Homo sapiens: one gene and its partners. The protein of the gene in region 5 purifies or fractionates together with the protein of the main gene of each other region. This does not show direct contact. Each region holds a gene or a part of one and is shown on either strand. Other genes may lie near its edges. The genes, in order: SCAND3, FRAS1, ARL8A, LRP1B, ZSCAN21, SCPEP1 and ZMYM4.

What was found.
Region 1: the proteins of ZSCAN21 (region 5) and SCAND3 purify together in Homo sapiens (affinity purification with mass spectrometry; one large-scale study listed by BioGRID and IntAct). This does not show direct contact.
Region 2: the proteins of ZSCAN21 (region 5) and FRAS1 purify together in Homo sapiens (affinity purification with mass spectrometry; one large-scale study listed by BioGRID and IntAct). This does not show direct contact.
Region 3: the proteins of ZSCAN21 (region 5) and ARL8A purify together in Homo sapiens (affinity purification with mass spectrometry; one large-scale study listed by BioGRID and IntAct). This does not show direct contact.
Region 4: the proteins of ZSCAN21 (region 5) and LRP1B purify together in Homo sapiens (affinity purification with mass spectrometry; one large-scale study listed by BioGRID and IntAct). This does not show direct contact.
Region 6: the proteins of ZSCAN21 (region 5) and SCPEP1 purify together in Homo sapiens (co-immunoprecipitation; one large-scale study listed by IntAct). This does not show direct contact.
Region 7: the proteins of ZSCAN21 (region 5) and ZMYM4 purify together in Homo sapiens (affinity purification with mass spectrometry; one large-scale study listed by BioGRID and IntAct). This does not show direct contact.

Annotation. Positions count from the first base shown.
Region 1 is NC_000006.12:28,580,799-28,584,298, reverse strand, and holds part of SCAND3 (SCAN domain-containing protein 3), read left to right. Parts: intron 1-3,500.
Region 2 is NC_000004.12:78,536,323-78,539,822, forward strand, and holds part of FRAS1 (extracellular matrix organizing protein FRAS1 isoform 1 precursor), read left to right. Parts: intron 1-672; coding exon 673-878; intron 879-2,971; coding exon 2,972-3,118; intron 3,119-3,500. UniProt on the Homo sapiens protein: Involved in extracellular matrix organization. Required for the regulation of epidermal-basement membrane adhesion responsible for proper organogenesis during embryonic development. Involved in brain organization and function.
Region 3 is NC_000001.11:202,141,938-202,145,892, reverse strand, and holds the start of ARL8A (ADP-ribosylation factor-like protein 8A), read left to right. Parts: upstream 1-1,155; 5' UTR 1,156-1,320; coding exon 1,321-1,443; intron 1,444-3,955. UniProt on the Homo sapiens protein: Plays a role in lysosome motility. In neurons, mediates the anterograde axonal long-range transport of presynaptic lysosome-related vesicles required for presynaptic biogenesis and synaptic function. May play a role in chromosome segregation.
Region 4 is NC_000002.12:140,350,017-140,353,516, reverse strand, and holds part of LRP1B (low-density lipoprotein receptor-related protein 1B precursor), read left to right. Parts: intron 1-444; coding exon 445-564; intron 565-2,478; coding exon 2,479-2,720; intron 2,721-3,500. UniProt on the Homo sapiens protein: Potential cell surface proteins that bind and internalize ligands in the process of receptor-mediated endocytosis.
Region 5 is NC_000007.14:100,056,274-100,059,773, reverse strand, and holds part of ZSCAN21 (zinc finger and SCAN domain-containing protein 21), read right to left. Parts: intron 2,864-3,500; 5' UTR 2,768-2,863; coding exon 2,369-2,767; intron 2,077-2,368; coding exon 1,884-2,076; intron 1-1,883. UniProt on the Homo sapiens protein: Strong transcriptional activator. Plays an important role in spermatogenesis; essential for the progression of meiotic prophase I in spermatocytes.
Region 6 is NC_000017.11:56,998,631-57,002,130, reverse strand, and holds part of SCPEP1 (retinoid-inducible serine carboxypeptidase precursor), read right to left. Parts: intron 1,277-3,500; coding exon 1,139-1,276; intron 114-1,138; coding exon 1-113. UniProt on the Homo sapiens protein: May be involved in vascular wall and kidney homeostasis.
Region 7 is NC_000001.11:35,418,709-35,422,558, reverse strand, and holds the end of ZMYM4 (zinc finger MYM-type protein 4), read right to left. Parts: intron 3,090-3,850; coding exon 2,882-3,089; 3' UTR 501-2,881; downstream 1-500. UniProt on the Homo sapiens protein: Plays a role in the regulation of cell morphology and cytoskeletal organization.

The DNA of each region.
Region 1 (3,500 bases), on a different chromosome or scaffold from region 5:
CTCCAGTAGTCACTGAGCTTTCCTCAAATATCACAGTTCTCATTTTACCTCCCAATACAACTTCTTTACTGCAGCCCCTTAATCATGGTGTGATTGCAATCTTTAAAGCTTATTATTTAAAGCAAACATTCAAGATATTGGTTGCCTATACAGGGGGTGACAGTGCCCTAACATTTTTTGAATTCTGTAAATGATTCAACATTAAACTTATTATTGATATTATTGTAGAGGCCTGGAATGATTTCACAAAAGCCTGTTTGCACGGGGTGTGATATACAATTCTCCCTGATTTAATTTATGATTCCAAAGCCTTTGAGCCTTCAGAAGATCTCCCCAAAACCAACCCAAGCTGTATCGCTCTTGCAAAGGGGGTTGGATTTGAAGAAGTTGCTAGTGAGGATAATGCGGAGCTGCTGCAATCTGACACACAGGATCTTTCTACAGAAGAGCTGCAAGTTAGTTGCTGAGGCACAAATGGAAGGTGTGGAGGAAGAAGAACATGCAGTTCCACAAGCTACAAGCTGCCTCCCAAGAGCTTTTCACTTCTCAGTTATCTTCTGCTTCAAGTATGATAGAGAAGCAGTTGGAGTAGATAAAAGATAATGACTACAATGCAGAACGCAGCATGATTTCACTTCATGACATAAAGCCCTAATTGGACCCATATAAACAGCTTCTTTATGAAAGAAGGAAAGTGTTAAAACAGCAAACACTGGGTATCTTTTTATAAGCCAGTGTCAAATAAATAAAAACAAGATGATAAACGGGAACCCACATCATGTTTCTTGTAGTATCACTATATCCAAGGGTGGAAGAATATAACATCAAATGTTCAAGCGTCTTCACTTGGATTTTTGATGATTATATCTTTCCACCTTTGAATTGTTGTTGTTGTTGTTTGTTTGTTTGTTTGTTTTGAGACAGAGTCTCGCTCTGTCCCCTGGGCTGCAGTGTAGTGGCACGATCTCGGCTCACTGCAAGCTCTGCCTCCGGGGTTCAGTCATTCTCCTGCCTCAGCCTCCCGAGTAGCTGGGACTACAGGCGCCCGCCACCACGCCCGGCTAATTTTTAGTAGATACGAGGTTTCACCGTGTTAACCAGGATGGTCTCAGTCTCCTGACCTCGTGATCCGCCCACCTCGGCCTCCCAAAGTGTTGGGAATACAGGCGTGAGCCACCGTGCCCGACCCACCTTTGAATTTTTGATGATTATATCCTTCCACCCTTGCCCCCCCTTTCCTCACACTTGTTTCTAACAAGATAACATCACCTTTCTAAGGTAAAATCCTATACTTAAAGTAAGATTTATTAATGTCTTATATTTTTACTAGAGTTTTTATAGTGTTTTTTATTTTATTTTATTTTTATTTTTATTTTTTGAGACGGAGTCTCACTCTGTCCCCAGGCAGGAGTGCAGTGGCAGGATCTTGGCTCACTGCAACCTCTGCCTCCCTGGTACAAGCGATTCTCCTGCCTCAGCCTCCTAAGTAGCTGGGATTTACAGGCAAGCGCCACCACGCCCAGCTAATTTTTGTATTTTTAGTAGAGACGTGGCTTCACCATGTTGGCCAGGATGGTCTCGATCTCTTGATCTCATGATCCGCCCGCGTCAGCCTCCCAAAGTGCTGGGAGTACAGGCGTGAGCCACCGTGCGCCAGCCGGGAGTTGTTATAGTTTTAATAATGCTCTAGTGACAAAGTTGTGTAGGTGTTAAAATAGTCCACCCTTTAACCGTATTTTCCCCATAAATCCTGTCACTTTTCTGCAGTTTTGCAGAAAGCATGTTTTTTTAATACATTCATATGTTATGTTGCAGCACAAATGCCTATATAAGCAGTTTCTCACGTCTAGTCAGCACACCCTTTTCTCTTTGCTTTAAATAACAAATACTGTAGTTTTTTTCCCCCTTAAGATATGCCTGTTACTTTAGAATAGGGGTATCCAATCTTTTGGCTTCCCTGGGCCATATTGGAAGAATAATTGTCTTGGGCCACACTAAAATACACTAACACTAACGATTGCTGATGAGCTTAAAAAAAATCACAAAACAATCTTACAATGTTTTAAGAAAGTTTACAAGATTGTGTTGGGCCACATTCAGAACTGTCCTGGGCTGCAAGTGGCCTGCAGGCTGCAGGGTGGATAAGCTTGCTTTAAAATTTCCCCTTCTAGCTTTGTTGAAAAATGTAGCTTCTGGTAGGACTTGGTGTTTGGTCAGTTCCTTGGGTATTGTTCAGGTTATACGCTGATCATGTTTGATAGTTTTTTTAATGTGGTCAGAGTTATAAATATCTCTTAGTGTTGTTGAATATCAAGTTTGTATAAATGTTTCTCATTTTTCTTGTTTTTGTGTGATTTCCCCCACAGGGGAAATACCACTGGCAGACACTTTTAGCTGCCAACCCAGTGTCTATTCTACCCTTCTTTCCTCCCGACAAAATGTTGGTTTTGTTCATACTGGCAATATATCTAATTAAATTCTTTTCCAGGCTTCCTTGTTCTAGAGTTAACTATGCAACAGAATTCTGGCCAGGGAGAAATAAGCATATTTCGGGGAGGAGGTTCCTGGGGAAGCTTTTATTTTCCTGATAGGATAGGGGAGATTACTTTAGTTTCACCTTTTCTCACTTCCAGTCTTGAACACTAATATGATATCTGGCCATCTTCTGACCATTAAGTGATGGTAAGCATGAGGCCAAATGCTAGTGTTAAAAGTGACAGAGCAGAAATATGAAGACAGCTAGGGTCCCTGAAAAACTGTTAGATAAATGAGTTGGTGCCAGCAACTACCTTCTTCTAGGCTTCTTGTTATGTAACAAAAATAAACCCCTATTTGTTTGTGCCACTGTAAGTTAGATGTTCGAATTTATTGGAAATATGTGCATTTCTAATGAACACAGCAATATTTACTCTACCATATTACAACCAAAAGTTTCTTTCCAGCATTTTTATTTATTTATTTGAGATGGAATCTCACTCTGTCACCCAGGCTGGAGGGCAGTGGCACGATCTTGGCTCACTGCAACCTCCACCTCCCAGGCTCAAGCAATCTGCCTTCCTCAGCCTCCTGAGTAGCTGGGACCACAGATATGTGCTACCATGCCTGGCTAATTTTTTGTATTTTGGGCAGTGATGAGGTTTCACTATGTTGCCCAGGCTGGTCTCGAATTCCTGAGCTCAAGCAATCCTCCCACCTCGGCCTCCCAAAGTGCTGAGATTACAGATGTCAGCTACTGCACTCAGCTTCTTTCCAGCGTTAAAAAAAATCAAACCCAGGAATTGAATACTGAAAGACTAATGACTGTCATGACCAGTTTGAAGTAACTTCAGTTTTGTAATTTATTACCACTACCCAAGGTACTCTTCAAACTTCTGTGGTAGAGGCAGAAGTGGAGTTCCTCCCGGTTCTAAGACCAGGCCCACCCATTTTGGTCTAGTCCAGCTGGTGGAAAAGTAGAGGAATCAAGAGACTAGATTTGTGTTTGTGCTTGGGGGGGTGGG
Region 2 (3,500 bases), on a different chromosome or scaffold from region 5:
ATACCATTCCCTAGGCAGATTTCTGTACCTGGTTTCATGCTCTCTTAACATGACATACCTTCCTCTATTGTGGAATGTAACAGTATAGCATTTGGGTGATTAATAAAGTATTGTGGTGGTTTGGTTTGAGAGCATAGTACCTTGACTTGGAATCCCACCCTCACCGTTTGCTTGCTTTGTGACCTTCAGCAAATCACTTAGCCCCACTCAGTGCCTCAGGTTTCTCATCTGCAAAATTGTGAGCACTCCATGAGTTATTACATGAGAGGACTTGGTACAGTACCTGGAAAATAGTATGAGTTTGATAAATATGAGCCTATTTTAGTCAATCACTGTGAGTTTGTTTCCATCCTCTCAACTGCATCTCACACACCTTGGTATCCCCTGTGCATAACAGAATACTTTGCTTCCCTTAAATGCTTAATTAATGCTTATTGAAAAAAAGAAGGCATAAATGTTCCCTAGCAAGAAAACTCAGAGAAAAAAAGAAAATAAGAATAAAAACGAAGCAATAAATGAATGAGTATTTTAGGGGCACATGGAATCATGGAGCTCTTCATAGAAAAGTGCTTTTCACTCTTAAGGGAGCATGTTTAACCCCTTTCAACCCTTGACATTTGTTTTTCTTTCATCTTAAAGTCTGACCTAATTAATACCTTTCAATCTTTTCAGGTCAAATCCTTTATGGCCGAGTACTTTGGAATCCAGAACAAAATCTTAATTCTGCTTACAAACTCCAGCTGGAGAAAGTCTATCTTTGTACGGGCAAGGATGGTTATGTGCCTTTCTTTGATCCCACGGGGACAATCTACAATGAAGGGCCCCAGTATGGATGCATTCAGCCAAACAAACACCTAAAACACAGATTCCTGCTGTTGGTATGCTAAGTTCTCACTATTAGTGTTAAAGAGCAGACACTTGAGCAGATTTCCTCAGCTATGACTTCTGCCTAAAGTAGATAGAGCTCACTCTTGATATTTTCTTCTCTATATATGTTTGTGTTGTTGTTTCTTTCAGATCAGCTAAATACTAGTACATAGGTGGTAGTTACGATGAGTAACAAGACAAACTTCCATTGATGTCCTCAGAAAAGGAAACTCTCGGCCAATGTTTCTCAGAGTATGGTTCAGAGACCTGGAGTGTCCCCATACTCTTTCAGGGAGTCTACAGAGTCAAAATTACTTTCAAAATAATATGATGATGACTCTTTTTTTCATACTTATTCCCTCATGAGTTTAGAGAGTTTAAAAAGTTTATCAATAAAATTTCAGATTCCACATTGTAATGAATCTTTAAAAAATAACCACTCACCAAGTTTTGATTTAGTATCAAAAAAGAGGCAGGGCGTGGTGGCTCATGCCTGTAATCCCAACATTTTGGGACACTGAGGTGGGAGAATCACTTAAGCTTAGGAGTTTGAGACAAGCCTGAGAAACATAAGGAGACCCCATATCTACAAAAAAATATTTGAAAATTAGCTGGGCTTGGTGGCATGCACTTGTAGTCACAGCTACTTGGGAGGCTGAGGTGAGAAAATCACTTGAGACTGGGAGGTCAAGGATGCAGTGAGCCAAGATTGCACCACTGCACTCCAGCCTGGGCAACAGAGCAAGACCCTATCTCAAAAAAAAAAAAGAAAAAAAAAAGCCATAATTGTTTGAAAAAGCTATTAACTACATAGCTTTATGAGGCCAGATTTTCTTCATACACTTTAGACAAAACAGCATATCACAACTGATGGAATTCAGAAGCAGTTATGAGAATCCAGTTTTTTCCCTGAGATTACAAAAATGTAAAACATTGCCAGCTCTCTTTATTGAGGAAGGGAATGAATTTAGGTATTTTCACTAAAAAATATCTTACTTAAGTTAACATGTAATGAGTTTCTTATTGTCAGTTTAAAATGAATTAATAAGTAAACACTTAAAATTTTTTCAGGTTTAATTTTTAACCGAGTAAATGTCGATAGATATAAGTCACATAAACAAAAACTCTCTGGGGTCCTTGATTTGTAAGTGTGTAAAGGGTCCTGAGACCAAATAACTTGAGAAGTATTGGGCTAGAATATCCCACTTTTTGCATTTTGAGATCACAAAAGCCACCACATGTCCTTTTGAAAAGGACAGTGGGTTCCCAGAGTTAGTGTATTAGTCTGTTCTCATGTTGCTAATGACATGCCTGTAACTGGGTAATTTATAAAGGAAAGAGGTTTCATTGACTTACAGTTCAGCATGGCTGGGGAGGCCTCTTACAATCATAGCAGAAGGGGAAGCAAATACATCCTTCTTCACATAGGGGCAGCAAGAAGTGCCGAGCAGAGGGGAAAAAGCCTCTTAAAAAACCATCAGAGGTCCGGGCGCGGTGGCTCAAGCCTGTAATCCCAGCACTTTGGGAGGCCGAGGTGGGCGGATCACGAGGTCAGGAGATTGAGACCATCCTAGCTAACACAGTGAAACTCTGTCTTTACTAAAAATACAAAAAAATTAGCCTGGTGTGGTGGCAGGCTCCTGTAGTCCCAGCTACTCCGGAGGCTGAGGCAGGAGAATGGCATGAACCCAGGAGGTGGAGCCAGCAGTGAGCTGAGATCGCGCCACTGCACTCCAGCCTGGGCGACAGAGCAAGACTCCATCTAAAAAAAAAAAAAAAAAAAATCAGATCTCATGAGAACCCACTCACTATCACAAGAACATCATAGAGGTAACTGTCACCGTGATTCAATTACTTCCTATTGGGTCCCTCCCATGACACATGGGGATTATGGGAACTGTAATTCAAGATAAGATTTGGTGGGGACACAGCCAAACCATATCAGGCAGCCACTGACTTATGGAGAGGGCTTCACAGCACATACTCTCTCAACTCAACCTAAAGCCAGGAGTGATGAGTACTTTTCTCCTCCCAGTCACTGCCACCTACCAATATAGTGGAACCATCTTTCTAAATCTTGCATTTCTTTTTTCTGAAATCCTAGGACCGCAATCAGCCAGAGGTAACTGATAAGTACTTCCATGATGTGCCTTTTGAGGCTCACTTTGCCTCTGAGTTGCCTGATTTCCATGTGGTCAGTAACATGCCAGGTGTGGATGGATTTACTCTAAAAGTAGATGCACTCTATAAGGTGAGTTTGGTGAGAAGAACAGAAGCTTAAGACCAAGTCTACTTTAAAGCTTGAAAAAAAAAAAAAAAAGAAGGAGGACTGCAACATCTCTGGATTCTTCAACATTCTGCCATTCTTGCTGGCAGATCTTTTCTTATTGTTAAGCTTATCACCCACCCAAAATTTTCACATGTATCCCCAGTAGACCAAAACAATTATACAATTATTGACTTTGCATATAGTCACTTGTCATTGTGCACATCATGGCTGCATATGACACTCCAGTTTTTCCTAAGTTCTTTTATATTGCATCCCTTTTTGGTTCTATGCTAGCCCAGCTGATTTTCACGGACATATGAAAAACATTTAAAAAATCATAATACAATACAGCAATTTAGAATAG
Region 3 (3,955 bases), on a different chromosome or scaffold from region 5:
ACCGCTGCACTCCAGCCTGGGCCACACAGTGAGACCCCATCAAAAAAAAAAAAAAAAACAATATTATGCTAGCCGAAACCTTGTGATTCTTCTACTTTGGTAACTGTTTGACTATTTGGGGTCATCTAACTCCAGTTGATTGGACAGATATGGTTGATATTGATAGTTTACCCACTTTTGACTAAAACAATAGACTACATATGACTACATTTGAAAACCAAACCCCAACGGGCAGCCAGCATAGGCTGGGGACTGCCCGAAGCCTGAGCCTACCCGGGACTGCCAGCTGAGGTTGTCAGCCTGCCTGAGCAGGTCCTATGGGTGGGTCTTGCAAGGAGAGGGGCAGGAGTAAGGCATCTTTGCAGGCACTCCAGACCCACTTCAAGAGGAGAACTATCACTTCTCCTCCTGAAGAATACTCTGCTTTTCACCAAAACAGGGCAACATTTTCCTTTGTCACAGACGTTCCTCACTGAAAACCCCCTGCCAGGACTGTATCTGTTTGGGTATCTTGGGGATGCTGGTAAAAATCCGGAGCAAGTTCAAGCGTCCGTTTCACTTGGGGCCAGAGGCTTCCTAACAAGTGGTCGGGGTAAATTGTGGTGAACAAAACAAGATGGAGTATTAAAAGACCCGAATACGGTTGTCCCTCTGCACTGGGTGCATTTTGAGAGGATGGGACTGTACCCAGGAATGCTCAGAGGCAAGGGTTCAGGGACAAAAAAGCCTCCATCTGCCTCCCTGTCGTAGAGATCTCATCTCCGTGTCCTGGGAAGTGGGTGACCCACTCTCCTTCAACCTGAAAAGGCTCCTGCTTAACCGGAACCTCACCCACCTCGAGCCCACCACCCTTTAAGAAAGGGGGTGCCAGTCAGGGCGCGGCAGTCGGGGACAGGGTCTAAAATAAATTAGACCCCATTTCCCAAGCGCCTCTCGACGCCAGCTGCCGGTCAACCCCCGCCGCTGAAGCCTGCGGATTCCCTGCTCACCCCACCTGCGGATTCCCTGCTCACCCCACCTGCGGGTGCGGCCCCTGGCCCCCCGGCTCCAGCGAGGGAGGAGCGCGCGCTCGGGTGCGAGCAGGACACGGCCCGGCCGCGAGGGAGGGCGGCGGCGGCGGCGGAGGAGGAGGGCGCGGAAGCCACACCCATCGGCGAGCCGATTCCGGGGCAGCGAGTCGTCGGCAGCCGCGCTCGAGCCTCCGCCCGCACCGAGCCGCGGGACCCGGGCCGTACCGGGGAGGGGCCGCTCCGGGCCGCAGCGCGAGGGCAGCGAGGGGCGGCGGGGACCTGGCACCGGGCGGGGCCGGCGGCAGCGACCATGATCGCTTTGTTCAACAAGCTGCTGGACTGGTTCAAGGCCCTATTCTGGAAGGAGGAGATGGAGCTCACGCTGGTCGGGCTTCAGTACTCGGGCAAGACCACCTTCGTCAACGTGATCGCGGTACGAGGGCGTCGGGCGCGGGGTCCCCGGGCGCGGGCCGCGGGTCGGGCCTGTCCCCGCCCGCGCCGCGCCCTGCTGAGCCGGGGTCGCCGCCTGGCATAGCCGGGCACGGCCGGGCGCCGGGCGGGGGAGGAGCCGGCCCCGAGCGCTTGGGGCCTAGTACGGCCCGTGCCGTGGGGGACCGGGGCGGCGCGCGACCCGCTCTCTCACCCGGGCCGGTACTGCACGGCTGGGGGCAGGGGAAGGGGGACGAACAGACAGGGCCGGTGCCACGGGGCAGGCGGCACCGAGGGGCTCTCGAAGCAGGAGGGACCCGCTGCCGGCTGAGACGGGCCCCCTCTGGCCCCCGCGCAAGGGGGCATGACGGGGCGAAAGTGCACGGGCCTTCCTGTCCCGCGGGTAGAGGGTCACGGGACGGGGCGGCCGAGAGGCTTGAGGAGGGGGTTTGGGCAAGCCCAGCCCCACCCAGAGGGCTTAACCCCTCCTTGCCGGAAGAGGAAGCCCCGGCCCTATTGAGGGGGAGGGGAGGTATCCCCCGGGGTAGAGGAGTCAGCTGAGGCCCTTGGCTCAAGCCCAGACTCCTCCCCAACTTCTCCCCGACCCGCAGTGTCTAGCCGGGGGTCCAGGGAGGATCGCATGGTAACGGGAGTTTGGAGACTCCGTCTGGCTCAGAAGTTTGCAGGAGCAGGTGCTCCCGACAAGAGAGGATGAGGTGTAGGGGCACGGCCCACTGGGGCCTTGGGAGAGTGGCTCTAAGGGCTTTGGGTCGTCAACACTGAAGTGGGTGATTGTAAGTCTTTCAGCGCCAGGGGAGTGGTGGGGAAGGAGTTAAAATCTCTCTCAAAAAAGGGGAAGATGAGCTCCATGGGTGTGAGCTGAGGCTGCCGTAATGGCTGCGGCCTGCCTGTCAGAGCCAGGCTAGACAGGGCTTGTGGGTCGAGGAAGCATGGGACAGGGGCTGGGGTTGTCCAGGGACCTGGCCCCAGTCCCAAAGCTGAGGTTTCCCACAACTGTGAGTTGGCCAGATAGTAACCAAAGATACTGATGAGATAGGTCAGCAGAGGAATGTATCCAGCCGGCCTAGGTACCTCTACCTGTCCGTGTTGTTGCCCCACCTTGCAGAAGATGGGCCTCCTCGACAGTTCTCAGCGTCCTAGAAGGCAGGGGACGTCACTTCATTGGACCTGAGGCATGAAGGCAGATGGAAAGCTCGAGGGGCGGGCATCCTGTGGTTACACAATTGAACACTGGCTTCCTTTCCCAAACATGCTCTGCAAATGACCTCTGCCCTTTCTCGACCCAGTGTCTCCTGTCTCCTGACCTGACAGGGCAGGATCTTCAGGCCAATGCTGCGGTTTTGGCACAGTAATTTTCGGAGCTAACACCCCTGGGCTCTGTCTGCCTAGGCTCTGCCCTTGGGGTCAGAGACCCTCTGGTTAAACTTGGCATTGACTTAGGCTCTTGGATTCCCAGAGCAGGCACATAACACCTGGACTCTGACCTGACTCTGCAGGCCTAGGTGGCTTGGGTTCTAGGCGTTTAGGTCTGAGAAATGCAGCTGGGCCTAGGTATCTCCTCGTTCCCCAGGGTGTTACTATAGCTGTGCTCTGGGACAGGGATCCACAGGTACCCGGGTGGGTTCGGTTTCTGGGTCTGCAGTTGAGCCTTTGACAGGAGGGCCCCCTCTAGACCAGCATCATATCCAGAGAGTTGGAGACTATAGCAGGCCAGAAACAGAACCCAAGAGTCCCAAATTCCCCTGCCAGGGTCAAGAGTTCCTGTGATATACAGGAAAAGCACCCCATCTCCAGCCCACAAGGTCCCCTTTTTAATCTTAAATTTGCCACTTCCGCTGGCACATTCTAAAAGAGCAGGCAAGCTAAATTCCCTTCTTTAGAGAGGCTTCCCAAGGAAAACCACCCCATGTGGGCTGCAGTTGGAATTCCAGTGTCCCGGTCACTCCAGTGTTTTCAGATCCTCTGGGGCTACCACACTGGCATTGCTGCCCACCCCGTGTATAATCACAGTTGAGTGTCTTCCAGAAAGAAACGAAGAGTTGGGACCCCTGGGCTCTGTTCCCATGCCTACCACTGAATTTCTGAATTACCTGTGCCTGTTCATTTGGCCTCTGTTTGTCTCAGATCTTTCGCCATTGGGTTTTTTCTACTCACCCTATGAGGTCTGGCTGTAAATAGAAATTGAGTTTAGTGTGTCTAGCTGCTCAGCAGGTTAATGTGAGCTGGAAAGAAATTATATACACTGCTTCTAAGAACCTGAAACATCAGCCGGGCATGGTGGCTCACGCCTGTAATCCCAGCAATTGGGAGGCCAAAGTGGGGGTTTCACCTGAGGCTAGGAGTTCGAGACCAGCCTGGCCAACATGGTGAAACCCCATCTCTACTAAAAATACAAAAATTAGCCAGGCATGGTGGTGGCCACCTGTAATCCCAGCTACTTGGGAGGCTGAGGCAAGAGAATTGCTTGAACCCAGGAGGCGGAGGCTGCAGTGAGT
Region 4 (3,500 bases), on a different chromosome or scaffold from region 5:
AGGTAGGTCATCAGAAACAGCTTAAAAGAAAACCTCAAGACAGGTCTATTTGCGTGAATGGAAATCTATACAACAAACCCCCATGGCACAAGTTTATCTAGGTAGCAAACCTGCACTTGTATCCATGAACTTAAAAGGTAAAAAAATAAATAAGTAAAAATTTTAAGAAAGAAAAAAGAAAGCCCCAGGGAAGTTTGAAATTGAAGCTTTAATATTTTAAGTGGATTAATAAAAGCAATGACAATTGATAAATCTTCTACTACAAATATTGTGAAAAATGATTATACCTTCAAAAATATGACACAGCAGGTCACAGATTAAAGATGTGAAAGGACAATAAAGCTAGTAATAAGTTAAAAATAATTTTGGCTTTTTTGAAACGTGGTAAGAATAGGAGTCTGAATTGAGGGTATGATGATGCTATTTTGAGCTCTTCTTTTCTAGACCTTAATGAATGTTTGGTGTTTGGCACATGTTCCCATCAATGTATAAATGTGGAAGGATCATATAAATGTGTGTGTGACCAGAATTTTCAAGAAAGAAATAACACCTGCATAGCAGAAGGTAAGATTATAACCACTATTGCAAATCCTATTACAATTTTGTTGTAAACATTTTATGGAGAAAAATGTTTTATATTTCATTCCAGCAACAGCTTCATTTCTGATAAAATACTTTTAATGATGATTAATTTGGCCAGTTGGTTAGTTAATATTAATGAATTTAATCTTAGATGGTTTATGGAAATGACTATGAAATATATGGTTACTGTTAAAATCACATTGTGTCATTGTGTTCAAAACAATTTTTCAAAAGGGGTAAAATTTTAAAAGCCAGTGTGATAGAATGTGAAGTATCTCTCTTGATGGTCTGCTCTAAGGGAATATGAGAAAAATTATACCCCAGGGATAAAAATAAACATTAGCATTATAAGGAGAAAGGAATTTTGAGTAAGGATTTTAAAGGTTTTAAAACAAGATCTTGCTTTCAAATTTAGAAGTCCTCCACTTACCAATATTATTTTTTAAAAAGATTAAATGATAGGCCTGGTGCAGTGGCTCATGCCTGTAATCCCAGCACCTTGGGAGGCCAAGGCGAGTGGATCACGAGATCAGGAGTTCAAGAACAACCTGACCAACATGGTGAAACCCCGTCTCTACTAAAACTACAAAAATTAGCCAGGCGTGGTGGTACACACCTGTAGTCCCAGCTACTTGGGAGGCTGATGCAGGAGAATCGCTTCAACCCAGGAGGCAGAGGTTGCAGTGAGCCAGGATTGCGCCACTGAACTCCAGCCTGGGTGACAGAGCAAGACTCCATCTCAAAAAAAGAAAAACAAACAAACAAAAAAAGATTAAATGATAAACTAGGGTTCTGGGCAATTGTAGGTATAGATTTTAATATTCATGTGTTTATGCTAAATAATACTGTAACTTCAATATTGTTGGCTACAAAGTATGATTGGACATTATTAAGATTGTTATTACAAGAAGAAAACAGGATGATGTAATGGATCAACTGTGGGCTATAGCATTTGATATGCTTGGATTTGAATCCCAGCACAGCACCTTTTAGACTGTGTGGCCTCAAGGAATTCACTAAAGTGTCAGAGCCTCAGTTCAGTTTCCATAGTTATAAGAAGTGGAGATAAACTGTGAAAGGCTTAACATAGCGTCTGACACATAATAAGCATTTGCTAAGTGACAGCTATTAACATTACAGAGCTGAAAGGCACCTCATGAGGTATTATTATTATTATTTATTTGCAGAAACTATGTATGCAATCGAACATCTCTTTAGGGCTTCGTTAATATTTTAATTGATAATTTTGGCATTTGCTTTAGGGTTTTACTTGTTAGTATGAAAATGACATTAGTACTCTATTGTAGGTGTCAAAACTTTAGAATAGAATGTTACACTTAGCAGGATTCTAGATAATTTAGAGATTATAGAACTTTAATGGAATAAATACTGATATCTTTTTATGTTAAAAGTTAGTAAGCATTTAAGATGTATAAATACAGTAAGAGGAAGATTCTTCATATTTTAATTTTTATTTCTTAGCCTAAAGTAATGATCACTCAGGTGCATAAATTAAGTAATCAGAAACTTTTGAAGCTTAATGAGTATACAACATAGTACTTGGATATTGACAATTGATGCATTATAACCTAGTGTATTGTGACTTATCAAATAATAATCTCTCTTCATAAAAGGACATTTATATGTACATAATTTCTAGCCATAAGGAAAGATTGGCAGTAGAAAAACCTCTATCAATAATTATTGTAAATGTTTAGATAAGTGAGTATCAGAAATAATAAGCCATAAAGACTAAAAGACAATATAAAACTGGTTGATTTTTGAGGAAAAACTGTATTAAGAATAATAATTCAAGATAATTTAAAAGTACAATTATTGCTTTTAACATTAGTTGAAATTTACTTTATTTTTGTATTTTATTATAATAATCTCCAGGCTCTGAAGATCAAGTTCTCTACATTGCTAATGACACTGATATCCTGGGTTTTATATATCCATTCAACTACAGTGGCGATCATCAACAAATTTCTCATATTGAACATAATTCAAGAATAACAGGGATGGATGTATATTATCAAAGAGATATGATTATTTGGAGTACTCAGTTTAATCCAGGCGGAATTTTCTACAAAAGGATCCATGGCAGAGAAAAAAGGCAAGCAAACAGTGGCTTGATTGTAAGTAAATACCATTGTATATTTGAAAGTCCATACCTTTTCCCCACCTGCTTTTTAAACAAAATTTATCTAATATAATATCTAATTATACTAAGTAATATATTCAATTATTCTCCCAATATTCTCCTTAAATAGAAATAATGCATTTCTCTACTCATTCTCATAGCTGTACATGATTTATTTTAGTTGCATGCTTTTATGTTTTTGCTTTAATGTATTTGACTATTATATAAGAATGCTAATGAATGACATATAACATCTCCAGAACATCTATTTCATAGTGCTTTACAATTATTATGAACATAAGCTTTTTTATCATGAGATGAGATTGGGAAACATCACTTTATTTTTACATTAGAAAGTAGCGTAATGCAGGGATAACTATTTCTCTTCTTACATTATCATAAATATACTTCTACTGTAGGGCAGGACATCAACTCAATAGTGTAACCATTTCTTCTGACTCCTGATAACTATATTTCAGGAAATATCCAAAACAGAAATATTGTGCACTTGTGTATGCTGGACATGTTGATTATCATGGTTATTGTTTTTGAGAAAAAATAAACTGGAACATGTTTCAATTTATGGTTGTAGATTAGATTATCCCTTTTTGTTTTAGGGCATGTCAAGTTATTGTGTGTTTTATATTTTTAAGTAACCTGGAAGGAAAATGACAGATAAATATGTGTTTTTATAGGGCCTGGCCCATTCCTGTACAACCAAAAAGTCAAGTGGTGTCCCAGCAGGATGTAATTGAAGCTTTGTGTTTAACAAAAA
Region 5 (3,500 bases):
AGCGCCACTGCACTCCAGCCTGGGCAACAAGACCGAAACTCTGTTTTTTTAAAAAGAGCTGGGCGTGGTGGTGTGCACCTGTAGTTCCAGCTACTCGGGAGGCTGAGGCAGGAGAATCTCTTGAACCTGGGAGGCAGAGGTTGCACTGAGCCGAGATTGCATAAATGCACTCCAGCCTAGCAACAGAGGGAGACTCCGTCTCAAAAAAAAAAAAAAAAAAAAGACTTTATGCAAAGCTTTCACAGCCAACTTCCCTTTCCTTAGGAGGGCCCAGCAGCTTTGTCTTCTGTCCCATCTGGGTACTAAAACCCAAGCCTGTTCCTGGCTCTGATAATCCTTCCACTCCACCCTCCTCTTTGTGTAATACTGCCAAGGGGCTACACCAAGAGATATGGAAAATAAAACTGACCAGATAGGTCTCCGGCTATTTTTATCTCTAATTACTGTGGCAACTCTGGGGAAACCCCAATTGCCTGGAGAGGTCTACTGTGTTCACCATAAACCATGAAGAATTTAGCTAACAGTTTAATTTTTTACTTTTCCTAGAAAATGTGATTTTTAACCGGCTCGAAACTCTGTTTCCATGATGGAGTTTCACGTTTCAGACACAGCAAGCATGGAGGGAGATTTCTGAGGGCCATGGACTCTTGTCATGAAATCACACCACACACATAAATAGTGGTCTACACCACCAACACGTAAGCAAAGTCCTGGTTTGAAACTATTAGGATTTGGAATAATATGCCATATTTTTGCAAACATATAATTAAACATTAACTCTGTTTCAAAGATTTAGTTCTAATCCTTCTGGTAAATGAAGGTACTTAAGAGTAGAACCCATAAAATAACAAAATAACATAGGGCCAGCTTGGGCAACATAGTGAGACCCTGTCTGTACAAAAAAATAAAGTTAGCCAGACATGGTGGTCCCAGCTACTTGGGAGGCTGAGGTGGGAGGATCATTTGAGCCCCAGAGATTGAGGCTGCAGTGAGCTATGATCACGCCACTGCCCTCCAGCCTGGATGACGGATGGAATCCCTGTCTCAGAAAAACACACAAAAACACCCCCACAGGGGATGACCATTTATGGCCTGAGATTATTCTATAAACCATAATATATGGAGATTTGAGCTCAGGAGTAGTCACCTAATACAGCTTTGACTTGTGAAAAATGCCCCACCTCTTTCCATAGCTTCAGAAAGGAGGTTGCCAATTATTTCCCATTTGCCCTTCTCAGATCCATTCTCTGACCCGCCCTGTGCCCCAGGAAGCTGACCCTAAGGGCTGCACTGTCTTGTCTTTCCTGCCCTCTGGCTGCCAACTGAGTTTGTCATTGGGGAACAAAAGCAGGAGATTTAAGGGCAGGAGGAGGGTGCAGTTGGGGTATTTATTCCGTTTTCTCCTCATCCCACAGCAGGGCCTACAGCCACAACTTCTATCAAGTGACCCCCTCCTCCATGACTATAGCTCTTACCTGATTCTGGTAAGAGGGTCCCCCTCTGTCCCTTTAGGCTCACAGGGAGTAACAGCTTTTCACTGTTGTCTGGTGCAACACTATTCCTTATTGGTTCATTTGAAGTCTCTACACCTCTGTTAACAGTTTCTTTTTTAAACTCATTTCAATTGACCCTTTAAAAAAAATTATTTGTAATACTCAGACTTCAAAGAGAAACTGATCCTTTAAGAGTGATCCATTCCCATGCTAGGGCCCAGGTTAAGACAGCCTTACTTGGGGGAGGAAAGGGGACTATTTCCACCCAGTCAGCCCAACTAATCAAGTCAATCTATGAAATCACCTCACAACCAAGAATTACTAATTATTCTGCTTCTCCAACCACAGGGGCCTGGGGCACTGAATAGGAGTCTAATGGGTGGTCCTCACCTCGGACCTTTCTTGGATCTTGAGCGAACTCCTGCTCCTCACCAGACTCTTGGATGTACAGGGGCCCCCAAGACTCGTATTTGTGACTGGTCTCCAAGGGCTGTGGCTGCATGCTGCTCGGGGATTCCTTTGCAGTTCCTGAGGAGGATATCTTCTCCCACACCGGTTTCTGTTCGTTTGGAGGAGTTGAGACCTAGAGACAATCAGGAATGGCTAGGTTTGTGCATGGCTCACTTTAAGACCAAGAATGAAAATCCCAGTAGAGCTACATAGAACCTCTAGGAAAGAGAAAAGGAAAACACCCATCCCATTCCATTCCCAAGGCTAAAAGTTAGTTTAGGATGATAGAGAAAAATAGGAGGAAACAAGGTCTAATTCAGCAGAAATTTCCATTCAGCAAATCTTAATGTATGGACAAACCCTTGTTCCTGCCTAGAATGTTACGCTCCCAATCTCCTAGAATAACAAAGGTCTCTCCTGCCTACCTGGTGTCCTGGCTCATCCAGTTCCCGCTCCAGATCTTCGAGGAGAGTGACAGCCTCTTCAGCGCTCTCCGGGCAATGCTCCTGCACCCAGGCCTGGAGCTCCTGGGGCAGGATGGTCAGGAACTGCTCCAGCACCAGTAGCTCCAGGATCTGCTCCTTGGTGTGGATCTCGGGCCTCAGCCACTCACAGCAGAGCACCCGGAGTTGGCTCAGGGCCTCTCGGGGTCCAGGGGTATCATGGTACCCAAACTGCCTGAAGCGCTGGCGGAACATCTCCAGGCTAGGAAGGTACTTGCCTTTCTCTTCTTTCTCCTCGACTTTTACCATCAGAGGCCCCACCTGCTCCTGTGGAGGCCTAGGGCCCAGAACTGGGGCCATGCCTAGTACCTTGGTCATCATGTAAACTCCAGAAACAGCCTCACCAAAGATGGGACTCTGTGGGGCAGGAATATTCGTTCCTTTGGGTTTCCAGTTCTTTAGGGCCACAAGTTAAACCTAAGAAAATATAGTTACCAAAAAATAATCAAACTGAAAAGTGTTTTTGGGTCTTTACAGCCATACCTTTAACACAAGAAATTGTGGAAATTATGTCCACCATAAAACTACCATACAAAAACAACTGCTCAAAATCTTTCTGGAATGAGCTGGGTACAGTGGCTCATGCCTATAATTCCAGCACTTTGGGAGGCTGAGACGGGTGGATCACATGAGGTCAGGAGTTTGAGACCAGCCTGGCCAACATGGTGAAACCCTGTCTCTACTAAAAATACAAAATTAGCCAGGCGTGGTGATGGATGCCTGTAATCCCAGCTACCTGGGAGGCTGAGGCAGGAGAATTGCTTGAACCCAGGAGGCAGAGGATACAATGAGCCAAGCCTGCGCCACTGCATTCCAGCCTGCGCAACAGAGCGAGATTCCATCTCTAAAAAAAAAAAAATCTTTCTGCAATCAGCTCAGGATATCCTACTTTGATTTCAGTGGTCTCCACTTTCCTAAAAAGTGCAATGTGGCATAATTTTAAAGTTAACTTTGCTCCAAAACTAGTTCAGAATCTCACCACTATAGATATTATAGTTTCTGAGATTTTATCAAGCTATCTACTGGCTAGATGCCATCTGTTTAAACCTAAGAC
Region 6 (3,500 bases), on a different chromosome or scaffold from region 5:
GACAAAAGCAGATGTTTCCAAAGATTTAGGGTCACTGTACAGGGCCTTCCACTTCAGCTGACTGAATTTAGGCAGTTCTGGCCACTTCAGTTTCCGCACCCAGGCCTCCTGACCTGGTGAGAAGGACAAAGAGAAAGGCCTGGCATTAACAGCTGGATAGAATAGGAAAAAAGTCTAGGTCCTAAAAGTTGGTGCTTCCCAAACTGCAATATGCATGAAACTCACTCAGGATCTTGTTAAAATGCAAATTCTGATTCAGAAGATCAGGGTAGGGCCTGAGCATCTGCATTTCTGACTCCCAGTGAAACCTAGGCTGCTGGGAGAAACCTAACAGCTGCAAAGCCTGACTGATTTTGCCTCTGCATCTCTCACCGCCATCTGCTCTTTAGGAAGGGAACTGGGGACCTCTGGAGGCAGACAGGCCTGTGAGGAGGACTGAGAGATGTCGTGAACGAGATAGTGATAAGGATCACCTGGGATGTTCATCGAGAAATGCAGCAGCTTTCCAAATTGTCCTTGGTGTCTCTTGTTTACCCATCACAAAAATATTCAATCCTTCTGGTTCACGAGGCGTGTCACATCCGTCAGACCTTGTGCCTCAATTACCCTGCCAGTTCAGAGAACCTGTCTCTGAGCCTCCACCAGGCCCTATTTAATTTGGAAGTGAGCAAATTAAACAGGTGGTAGGTGATAGGGCAGGAGTCAGGATTCCACAAAGACCATTTCCCCTGGGTCTTCAGGGTTACAGTCATTAGGGTTTAGTTTTAATTCACTCTGCAGTGGTCAACATCGACTGTGATGTCGCACAAAAATGAGGCTCTCCCTTAATTAAACAGCGCATTTGCCCAATAACCAGGAAAATGTCTAAGTTTTGTGGTAGAGACAGGTGGTGTTCTTTTCTTTAATCATACCTAAGGGCCCCCAAACCCAGGTAGGCTCAGGCTTCTGAGGGGTCACAGCCACGTGCAGCTCCCCACCCTTTGAATAATCAAGGTCGGGGTAGACGGATGTAATGGGAAATGGCCTTCCACCTGGCATTTCAACATCACCCACCGCAAGACTGACATGTCCAAGGCCAGTTCCCTTCCAGTTGAACCCATAAAACTGCCTCTAGGTGCCTCTCAGAGTCAATTCCTACCCATGGTATCTACGATGAGATCCAGCTGTCCATTATACACCGTCACGTTGATCCCTGCCTCCAGCAACTCGTCCACAATGCTAATGACTGGCTTCATGAAGTCCTCCTCCATGTTCACAAAGACGTTGGTAGCCTGGCCTGCACATGGGGAAGGAGAAAGAGGGAGTAGCTTGGAATCTGCCAAAACAGGAGGTACCTTTCAGCCCAGAGCATCTTGGGCTCCAGCACCGAACAACGACTGAATGCACAGATGCTTCACAAACAGGGATGAACCAGCCCAGAAATTTGTGCCGACTGGTCAGGTGTAAGGCACACATAAATAGCACATGTGGTCCATTCTCTTGAGAGCTTGTGATGACAGCAGGCACCATTTTTAATGAGGAATTGACACCTGGAATAGGCTACTGTCCAAGGAAACAGGGAGGGAGAGGCCCAGGAAATACTCATTAGGCTGGTACACTCAGGGAATAAATTGTGCTTTGGGCCAATGTCAGTTTTCCTGTTTTTTTGAGTAACACCAGGGCCAAGTTTCAAGTTCTGAACAGGTAGGCCTACCTTATAATAAACCAGATCAAACCTAAACCAATTCAGAGCTGGCCCTCAGGAAAGCCAAATGAATAACAAGCCCCAGGCAAGAGAGGAGCTAGTACTCTTGCTAGCTCCTGCCCATCAGCATTATCCTAACACTGAATGACAGCAATAAGAGTGGCAGCCACCATTATTTGCTAGTCACTGCCAAGGAGGCATCTGACAAGCAACATCCCATTTTCTTCTTCATTACCTTGGGAGATAAGAAGTCTTCTTTTAAAAAAATTTAATTTTTATTTATTTATTTACTTATTTGAGACAGAGTCTCACCCTGTCACCCAGGCTGGAGAGCGGGGGCACAATCTCAGCTCACTGCAGCCTCTACCTCCCAGGCTTAAGCGATCCTCCCACCTCAGCCTCCCAAGTAGCTGAGACTACAGATGCACACCACCACGCCCAGCTCTTTTTTTTTTTTTTTTTTTTAGACAGAGTTTCACTCTTATTGCCCAGGCTGGAGTGCAATGGCACAATCTTGGCTCACCGCAATCTCTGCCTCTCGGGTTCAAGCGATTCCCCCACCTCAGCCTCCCAAGTAGCTGGGATTACAGGCATGTGCCACCTCACCCAGCTAATTTTGTATTTTTAGTAGAGACAGGGTTTCTCCATGTTGGTCAGGCTGGTCTCGAACTCCCGACCTCAGGTGATCCGCCCACCTTGGCATCCCAAAATGCTGGGATTACAGGCGTGAGCCACCACACCCGGCCACACCCAGCTCTTTTCATTTGAGCTAATTTTTCTTCATTTCTAAAATTCTCCCAGCACTCAGGAGTAATGAAAAAACCAGGGATGGAATGAGACCTCTGGTGACTGCAGGTTGGGAGAGGAGGGCCCATGTCCCCTGAGAAAGCTCCCAGCAGCAGCAAATCGTAGGCTCCCAGCAGCAGCCGCAGGACCACTGACCCCATATCCTTGGGGTATCTTGAACACACATGAAACAAAACCCTCTTAGGTTTGGAGTATTTTCCCTTCAGAAACCTGAGATCTCTGCTTGCTCAAGGCCTCCCTATAGGACTAAAGTAGGAACTTAACCAAGATTTCTACCTGGCCCTGGTCTCTAAGGATTTCATTATTTCCTCACCATGGCCTTGAGACCAGAACGCAGTAATGCCTGGCCATATCCAGCATCAGGATGCCTGGGGAGGTCAGCAAGAGAGAGCTGGTCAAAATCTGCCCGAGCACCTGGGTGTCTCTGACATCCTGCAAGGACCTTTGGCGCGAAATCTCATCTGCAACCAACTGTGGCCTTCGATGTAGCTTTTTTATCTTAATTTTTTATTATGGAAAATTTCAAATGGATAGAAAGGAGAAGCATACAATGCTCCGATGTACCCATACCAGGCTTCAACAATTATTAACTCACAACCAATTACACATTATTTCCCTCCCCACTCAGCTCCCTACCAACTCCTTATTTTGAATCAATTTTGATGTCTTTTTTTTCCCCTTTTTAAGAAACAGGGTTTCTCTCTGCTGCCCAGGCTGGAGAGCAGTGGCATAATCATAGCTCACTGTACCCTCAAACTCCTGGGTTCAAGCAATCCTCCCACCTCAGCCTCCCAAGTAGTTAGAACTATATGCCACATGCCACCATGCCCAGCTAATTTTTCTATTTTTTTAAAGAGATGGGGCTTTACTATGTTGCTTAATTGTGGCCTCAAGCAATCCTCTCAACTCAGTCTCCCACAGTGGTGGGATTATAGGCGTGAGCCACTGCATCCAGCCCTGACAAGTCATTTACTGTCTCTGTATCTATTTGCTCACCTACAAAACGTGG
Region 7 (3,850 bases), on a different chromosome or scaffold from region 5:
AACTTCAACTCAATACCCTAGGAGACTTCTTTGGAAAATTAAATTCTGAATTCATTAATAGAAATTCATTTTACATTAGATCTTTTGGGAAAACCTGTTTTATAAATTTAGGATTGCCACAAGGCAGGTAGGTAGAAAGTCGATACGGAATTTGAAAGTACAGCTGCATAATACCAAGACAACTCTGAAGTCGAAGGAAAATGCTATTTAGTCTTACATTCCTGTTTTAAACATGTATTTATACTTAAGAATGAACATATCCTTTATTCTAGTCTTACAATTTCATTAAAGTTGAACTGATGTAGGCTTTGTAAATCTCAAAAAAGTTTGCCTGAAATGATATGTATAAATGATCTCTGATATTTCTACCTGTTGGGACTTTGAATATAGTCAGTAAATTAGCTAAAAATGGGAACAAGTCTTTTGATGGAAAAAAGGAAATAAAAGAACTTGCAATGAAAAAATATGTTGACTGGACTACATAAAAAAAATTTCTTTCTCGGAAACTGCTCTCTTTCTTTGTAATTTTACTAATTGCTGGGTCATACCAATAAGGTCAATCAGAAAAAGAGATTTCAAATTCTTTTAAGACGTAAAGAAGAAGAACTCACCCATCAAATACAAATATACTATTTTATTCTAAGGGAATATTTCTGTGGTTTCTGTAAGGGGAAAACCTAAAAGTGGTTAAAAACTGAAAAAGAACAAAAAGGATGATTTAGATGTTTTTGTTTGATGTTTTTTTCTCCCCTGGAAAAAAAATGTAATTTTACACAATTTTCATAAAATTAAAAAAGCAATAATCAGACGCACACATCAACAGCTACACTTATGAGGAATGACCAATAATTAATCAATATTTTCTCTTATGAATAAATTTAGGGTTCTGGGCAACTCTGTGGACTAACATGCAAATGAAATCCTGATACAGTCATTTATCTGGGTATTGGGTGTTCTCAGTAAAAGATACAGATTTTTTTTTCTGGTATTTCATAACAATTTATCTACTATGCTAACAATATTTGTTTTTTCATACAACTACAGAAGGGGAAAATGTTAGTGTTTATACAAACCATAAAATTCGTATAGTGGGGACTATTACACTTGCTATTTCTGGATAGTTTATTGGCAGACTTATCAGACAATCCAATTATTTGTCCTCCATATCGAACAAGGTATGGAGTAAGAAGTTTTCCAGTCAGAAATGACAAACACAGATGGAATTAATCATACAGAATCGGGGTGGATTTACTTCTTTCATACAGTTCTTGGTAACAAAAATGAGATTTGTTACAGGCAGAGGGACAGAACCACCAAGTACACAATGTCAGAAGGCCTACTTTTTTCATTTTAGTTTTACTTAAATGCCTTTTATTTGTTAAAAAAGAAATACACCTGCCACCCCCACCTAAAAAATGAGATACCCTGAAAAGTCTTTCAAGATTAAAATTTCTAAGAGGCTTTTTGACATCTCTCAGTTTTATCATAGCGTCAAATTAACCTTAGCTGAAGAAGTTCTGCAATTGGCAAACGTCATAAAAGCTTTGATTCCAAATTTTGTGGGGAAGAAACTGAGAATGGAGATGAGGGAGATGGACTGATATGCCACACACACCTATGACTTGCAATCCTCATAGAACTACTGAAACAGCTAGAGTTTGGAATAATGCTCTAAGACCTGCTTATGGATATGCAAGACAATGTCTTTGTATCCTCACCCCAGAATCCCTATTTTCAAGTTTCAAGGGCAACAAGGTCATCTTCCAAATGCTTTATATAGGAACCTAACTAGGACCTTTTCTATCATAATTCAGATAGCTAAGTAATACTGTATCTTTGTGGAATCACTCACAGGTTTGCCAGAGTAAGAAAAGAGACTATCCTTTTTGAAATGACAAGGGCCTCCAGAAACTGGTGCAAAAGACAAAATAAGAGGAACTGTTTGGGAAATAGGAAGGTAAAACAACGGGAGAAAAGCTGCCATTGGGGAAAAAAAATGAAAATAAAAGGAGAACCCCCATTTCTCTGTACCACAGCTCAGGCTGTGAGACAGCTGCAATAAGGGCCCACACCCAGAGAAGGGGCATTTTAGTGGGTTTCTACAAACATTTCAAGACACTTGGGGTCTGATAGGCTCCACAGATTTTCTGTGTGCATAATTAGTTTGTGGAATATCATCCCCTTTACCTTAGTTTACCCACATCCAGACCCACCGCTGAGAAGGCTTGATCCAGAAAATGAAAGGGACACATTACTGTTAACAGCAGTGAAGGTCATTTTCCCTGATGTGAGGGGCCCATGGCAAAAGCTTCTGTCCTTCACATGATTGGCTTGGCAGTGAAAATCAAAATCAATCAAGACCACTTCACTATCTTTTTTAAAAAGTTGAGTATTTTTATTGGGTCTTCAAATCTGGGTCCCACAGTCCTCATTTGATGTCACTCTTAGCTCTGTACTGATCTCTCCTCTGACTTTTACGGAGGGCTTGCCAAAGTAGCCTATTGCAGCCAAAGTTTCACTCCAAAGCTACCTCTCTAAGGTCTAAGGTTACTATGGTAAAGTTTTATACAACAGTTTTCCTTAAAAATATTCCACGATTTGTTACTCCCAAACAAAATAAGATTATGCACCACTCGGAGAAATTAGTCATTCTGAAGATGTCTAAGAACTATATCACTGCCAAAGAACATTTCTCAGTTCATATTCTTTCCTTCAATTTTCATTTGCACATCCACACTGTGGGGTTCACAAGTCATCTGTTTTCCATGATCTTATGGTCAAGTCAAGAGGACTTAGACTTATACATCATTTTCCAACAGCTGGATGCATTCACAGTTTGGTGCATACCAATATGTATGAAAATAAGAACCTCACTTCCGTTTTAATCTGATAATTCAACATCAGAGTCTTCAGATTTGGCTTTGGCAAGTTCTTCATGTACCTCCCTCACCATGAGAATACGTGTTAACATGGTGTCCAGGGTTCCAGGGTCTATCGGGAATGTGGAGTACCACATGGGGCTATTCGGGACACAGGAGCGCTCAGGTTGAAGGTAAAACACATCATTCCTTTGCTTCACACTTTCAGAACTATCCACAGGGGAAAAAAAAAAAGAGAAAAAAGAAAATTAGAAATCAGAGAGTATAGGAAATATGTACTATTCTTAAGTAAACTGAGGTTTTTGCCATTAAAAGTAATTAAAAGTAAGGGCAAAAACTGCAATTATTTTTGCACCAACCTAATATGGCTCTCAACCTTTCTCCACTGTGACTCACAATGGGGAAAGCAAGGTACCCACAGAGATAAATAGTTTACAGGAATATTTCCTCCCAGGAATCAACTGAAATCACAATGGATTGGAAGTGAGTATAAAGTTAATATAAGACAAAGTGTAAATCATAAACTTTAGTACTTCAAACATTATTAAGAGCAACAAAAAAGTCAACTCACATGTGACACTATGGCCAAGCACCACATATTGGAAGTGCCCAATATCCTGGAATGAACTCCAAGGGCACTCAATACACATTATCAAAGGGCAAATGAAGCTATTACATTTCTTTCAGAAAAAAAAGTGTTACAACTCTAAAATCATAAAGTTCCTCTAAGAAAAGGACTACTTAGAAAATTTCAATTCCTTAAAAATTGTTTTTCTATTATAGCTTTAGCAAAACAAAATTTCTTTTCTATACAAATAACAAAATAACTACAGATTAGGTATCACATAAAGGTTGTACAACAGTTGTAAAGATCAAACAATAGCAGTGATTCTTGCTTTTGAAGACATTTTCATAAAATAATTATGAAGACAAGGTAATTTGTTTTGTGGTTCAAAATCCACATAGATATG